Regions from separate parts of the Homo sapiens genome. Here region 2 is linked to region 1. The links come from fine-mapping of genetic effects on gene expression. A gene starts in region 1. The other region holds a variant in brackets. All regions are shown on one strand. Distances are from middle to middle. Region 1 holds the start of LAPTM5 (lysosomal protein transmembrane 5). Region 2 overlaps LAPTM5 (lysosomal protein transmembrane 5).

Region 1 (2,909 bases):
GAGAGGTTAAGTAAATTGCCCAAGGCTGCAGAGCTGGGAAGCAGGGAAGCCAGGATTTGCATGCAGGAGTCTGCATCCAGAGGCCGTGGGCTAACCACTGAACAGCATCGCCCCCCTGAAGGCTGGGCTCTTGCCACAGCTCTGCCTGCCCTGCCTGTGACAGGAAGCAGACGCAGGCAGGTCTGAGTTTGCAGCAACCCACCGCAGCATGTGGATCTAGGCTAATTTTGAGGAAGCCCTTCCAGACTCATGAGAAAACTGTTAACCACAGGCCCTGAGTCACCCCAGGAGGAAGTCGCTTGGGTCTAGGGGAGATGAGTGTGGCCAGGAGTTTGGGAGTAGGGTGGGTCTAGGCAGGACAGTACAAGGACACTGACCCTCAGCCACCCCAGGCAGAGGGGCAGCCTTGGCCCCCGGGCACTGTGACTTGCCCAAGACCACACTGTGAGTCACCAGGAAAGGAGGAACCAGTGACAGCCGTGACTTCACAAGTTGCCCAACAAGAGCTTGGGCCGGACAAGTTACCCTAATGATTAGCACAGGTCTCAAGTTCTCTTTGGTGGGCAGAAGGCCGTGGTTTGACTGAGCTGGAAGCTGAGAGGACACGGCCCCTGCCTCCCCACTGGAGGCACAAAGGGGAGATCCCCACTTCTCATCCCCTCGAGTGGCCCAGGCTCCCTCCAGGCCCCAGGGGAAGAATCGGGGCTGTGTCTGCGGCCGACCTCACATCCCGGTCAAACAATCCCAGCCCACGTTCCTCCCAAGATCCCTGCCTTCCAAAGCACTTTCACATCTGCTGTTGGCTTTGCACACAAATAACCTTCCGGCTGCTGCTGTGCCCCATCTCACAGAGGCAGAAACGGAGCCAGCCTCGGAGTGAACGTCAGTTACATTTGCCTGGAAAGTGGATTCCAGCTCCCTTACTCCTCACTCTTGCGGCATCTCCCCAGGGTACCCCCAGCCATTTGACAGAGAAGGAAACTGAGGCCCAGAGCAGGACAGGGATTTGCCCAGGGTCCCCCAGAGAGGTGGAGAGCAGGAGTTCTTTCATTTGTGGGGCTCCGTAGATGACGGGTCACCGCAGACATTCACACTCACACAAGCACGCACGCACACACACCCGGGGCCCGCACACTCACCACATGGTAGATGGCCAGGGCGGTGGTTGCGATGCGGACATTGAAGCAGCAGCAGGTCTGGCGGACAGTGGACAAGCGGGGGTCCATGGTGCTGCCGTCCCCTCCTCTGAGACACTGAAGGGGAAAGAGCCTGGTGCCTGGAGCAGGGCAGAGAAGGGGAAGCTGCTGGCTGCCCTCCTCACTTCCTTCCTGCCCCTTAGACAGGCAGGGACAAGGTCGTCACAGCTGGGGCGGGGCAGCTGGGGAGGGGGAGTGGGGACAGGGCAGCAGCCTGCCTCAGAGCACCCCACTGCCCTCTGCCATTCCCAGGAGGGGGTTCCAGAGAGGACAGACCCTAACACGGTCATCATGCCCTTCTCTGCACCAGGGCCAGGGTTCCACCGTTTCACACAGCTTGCTTACTAGAAGAACACTACCAACTTTGGAAGCCAGGACTGTTACCAAGCCCATTTCCAGATGAGGAAACAGCTGTCCAGAGAGGTCAAGGCACTTGCCCCAAATCACACAGTAGTTAGCACTGGTGGCAGAATTCAAACCCAGATCTGTCTGGCTGCAAAAATAGCTATTGTCTAGGAGGCATTTCCTGCCTCTTCCAGGCATGCTCCTGGATTCACTCCTTTCATCCTCACCTCAATCCTTTGAGAGAGGTACTATTATGATCCCCATTTTACAGATGAAGAAACTGAGGCACAGAGAGGGGGAATGATTCGTGCAAGGTCACACAGCTAGTCAATGAAGGTGCAAGGATTTTAACTGAGGCTGACTGGTGCTAGAAGCCTCCCTGGAGCTGGTGTTCTCTCCCACTTCCTCACCCTGAGCCGCAGGGAGAAGCTTGTTCTTCCTAAGCTACGAAGAGGCGTGCAGGGCTCCAGACAAGGACGGAAGAATAACCAGGAAGCAAACCCATCAACTGTGCGCCAGGCCCTGGGCTAGGCTTCTCTTCTAGGTGGGTCAATAACTCTTCACAGCAATCTGTGAGACCCGAACCTCACTTTCAGGGCCTCAAGACCCAATCCCCATACTCACACAAAATCAGGGATTGCTTTTCCCCCTTGATCTTGCAAAAAGTTGGAATTAATAAGCCACAACTCTTAGGCAAGCTACCCTGGAATCTCTACTCCCTCCTCAGATGATAAATTATCCATATTGCAATAAAGAAAGGGAATAGGAAGTACATGCAACATTTCTGGAAGAAGCCCTGCTTCATTCCACAGCTGAGCCCCTTTGCAATGCCAAGCTTCTAGTGCAGAGCAGACAGGAACTGCCATGAAGCCCTGCCCTCCCAGGAGATCATGGAGTTAGGATTGGACACTGCTGCAGCCCATCATTTCTGCCCCAGGAGAGGTTATAGAAAGTCCCTAAGCTCCTCCCACTTGGCAGGAGTTGCTCTGTTAGACCCACAAAACTTGATTGGTGGACTTGATCAATCCATTCTCCATGTGCCAATGAGACCAAGGGGACTCTGCAAGCTTTGGGCTCCTGGGAGGCCTGGCCTATCCCTTCCCAACTTCATTTTCAAGGCTGTTCCTGTTCCTTCATAAGCCTTGCTGAGGCCTGACATCATAGAAAGGTGACACAGTGCAGTGGTTAAGAACTTTGGCTCCACAGGCCCATGGCCTGGGATCTTCTGGCTGGGTAGGCAGAAAACCAAGAGAAGTCCTCCTTTGTCTAAGAGTAGCAAGACCAGAGGAACTGGAGATCAGGAAACCAGGGGCCAGGAGGGCCCTGAGGCCATGCTGGGGAGTCTGCATTTGATTGTGCACAGAAGCC
Region 2 (2,909 bases), 23 kb before region 1:
CATTGTTGGGCTGAATTATGGAGAGACCCGAGGAGTGACTCAGCCTAAAGCGTTGACCCAGTTGTGAGCAGCTCACAGGCCCTGCAGGAGGAGCAGGCCAGCGAGGGAGACACAAGCAGATTGTCCTGCCAGGGAGGGGCGGGAGGGCCCACCCAGGCCACAGGGGCCACCAAAGCAAAAAAGCAGATTATGAGGCAGCTCCACCCCTCCCAGCACTGGGGCTGGGGCCTGGCGAGGGTCACACCTCTGAGTATGGGGGTGGTGCTGGGCCCCCCTCTGGGGTCTTCGATGGCAAAGACAGGGCTTCCTCGTAGGACGGCAGGACCACCTGGGAGAGACAGAGAGATGAGGGCTGAGTATGGTCAAGAATGACCTGCAATTCCAACCTGGGGTCATGGGACCCAAACCCCCACCTCTGGCAAAATGATGATGATAATGACTGGCAGGTCTTGGATATTTGCTATGTGCTAGACATTGCCTGCATGAGATAGGTGCAGTTCCCAGCCCTGTAGTGGACATATTTGCCTTTGCCTATTCAGCATCAAGTCCCCCTTATTTTGAAAACAGTGCACCATTTTCCTTGGGAAAACATTCTCAGTCCATATACCTTCAGAAGAACTGGTCCCATCCCTCAGATCCAGCGAGGTGGCTGGACTTGGCCACTCAAAGTAGAATTCCATCCCCCTGGCTATAGTCCTTGGTTTGGGGATAGGCACGTGGCCCAAGTTGGTCCAATCAGACATACTCCTGGGACCTTCTTTTTCTGTTGGGATTTCTGAGAGGGTGGGATATCTGCCTAGGGGTTTTGGCAGCCTTTTTGCCACCACAAGGGATGGGCTTCCGGAAAATGAAGCCAACATCAAGGAAAGTAGAGTCAAGAGTTGGAGAGGACGAGATCATATCCTGATGTCAGGACTCAGCCAGGCCCAAGCCAGACCTACATTTGGCTGCTAAGTTCTGTGAGCTAGTAAATTCCTGAAGTCAGATTGAGTTGGGTTTCTGCCACTTGCAACCAAAAGTGTCTTAGCTAATACAATCTCCACCTTACAGGTGAGGAAAGTAAGTTACCAGGAATTTAAACCGTCACTTTCCAATAAGCTGCTTCTAAGCACACCTCATCCTCTCTTCCCGGAAAGCCTCCTTCTGCTTTCCCAGCTATCTCATATCCATTGACCCTCCAAGACCAGTTAACTGTCACCTCCTCCAGGAAGGCTTCCCTGATACCTGAGAAGAGGCCAGGTCCTTCCTCTGTGCTTATTGTCCCTGTGCTTCACACCAAGTTGTAATTGTATCTATGTGTCTGAACTGTACACTCCTCTAAGGCAGAGGTGGCATCTTAGTTTTCTCTGCGCCTCCTGGAATCGATATGAGACTAGCAAAGAGTGAGAGGCAGTAAATACTGAATAAATGAATGAGTGAGTGAATGAATCTTAGACTACCAGAACTGAAAGAGAACACATTTCTTCTGTTCCAACCCTCATCTTACAAATAGAGAAACCAAGGTCCAGAGAGGGAAGGAAACTTGACCCAAATGGCACAGGGAGTTAGTGACAGGGCTGGCACCCACCTGCAGCCACACTCACCTTCTGGAGCATCTTGGAGTTT[C/T]TCTTCTCCTCCACCGAGTTCATGCACTTGATCAATCTGTAGCACCGCCACACGCACTTGAACATGTAGACCTGGAAAAAGGCCCAGGTCAGGCTGTGCTTTGCTGAGCGTCCTTCTCACGCTCCAGCAGGCCTAGGACATATGCCAGGCAGGAGCCACCACTCTCTCCAGAAGCCAGCATCCAGCTGCTCCTGCTCGGACCTCTCATTCTGGTTGGGGGTTCCTCACCAGCCAGTCCAGAATATTCCAGGTATTGCCCTTTTCATTGCCCCACAGATACCACATAGCAAGGGGATTTGGGGGGCTTCTAGCCCACCCTCCAATTTCCCTGGCAATAGTCCCACAGCTCCTGCTTGACTGCCCACACTGCCTGGAAGCTCACTACCTCCTGAGACAGCCCTGCCCATCTCGAAACAGAGCTGATGGTGGGACATGTTTTCTTCAAAATTGCTTCCGATATGTTGTTTTCTGAAGCAGATTACAAAACAGCATGTGCAGTATTGGTCCATGTTTATAAAGGAGGAACAGTTAGTACATGTCCATCAGCTGATGCAAGTTAATGTAAGAATTGGGCAGAAGCTTTCCAGAGTGGGGCATACAATCCCAAGGGGCAAGCTCAAGAAACAACAGAAAACCCCCAGGATGCCCCCTGAGTAAGAGGAGAGGGTCCTGTACTGGAAGGTCTTGTTTGATGGATTCCCTGATGGGCACATAGGTGGGGCAAGGAGACATATGGAGGTACGGAGTGACAAAGAATGAAGCATGAAGGCCCAGGGAAAATCAAGTCGGTGGAGGGGGCCAGAGAGGCAGAATGAGGGTCAAAGAGGGAAGCCCCTCATTCTGGAGGATAAAAAACAGAAGGGGAGCTGGGGGACGGAGCTGTGTGCTGGGGTCTGCGGAGGGGTCCTGCAGTAGAGAGTGCCATGGAAAGCCCACACTGGCTTCCCCCATGAGGCCTTCAGGGGTGTTCTCACTGTACACTCACTAGTGCGTTTGTGCTAGGTCAGTCCTTGGAGAAGATGCTAAAAGGGGCAAGGTTCTGTTTCTAGGTTGGCATTAGGTGACAGCAGAGACTGCCCAGGGCCTCAGATGGAAGCAGGAGCTGGGGTCTGCAGATGCCCACCCACCACCACAGAAAGGCTGGGGGGAAATGCACCCAGTTGTCAGCAGTGATGCTCTCTGTGTGGGGTGTGGATGGTGGAGTGCTTGTCTTCTTTCTACTTATCTGTAGTTTTTTGGTTTTTGTTTTTTGTTTTAGAGAGAGATTCTCACTCTGTCGCCTAGGCTGGAGTGCAGTGGCATGA

The links.
Region 2: its variant is fine-mapped to the expression of LAPTM5 in whole blood (INTERVAL, PIP 0.96).

Annotation. Positions count from the first base shown.
Region 1 is chr1:30,756,520-30,759,428 of GRCh38, forward strand. It overlaps LAPTM5 (lysosomal protein transmembrane 5), which reads right to left and starts at 1,255. Exons shown (of 8, transcript NM_006762.3): 1 at 1,140-1,255. The coding sequence starts at 1,226. RefSeq lists enhancers at 62-858, 987-1,266, 2,335-2,404.
Region 2 is chr1:30,733,590-30,736,498 of GRCh38, forward strand. LAPTM5 (lysosomal protein transmembrane 5) reads right to left here. Exons shown (of 8, transcript NM_006762.3): 7 at 1,584-1,676; 8 at 1-328. The coding sequence ends at 239. Among named protein-coding and RNA genes, the nearest start is that of MIR4420, 4.2 kb to the right of the region's middle. RefSeq lists an enhancer at 1-236. The variant C/T (reference allele first, on the strand shown) is at 1,606.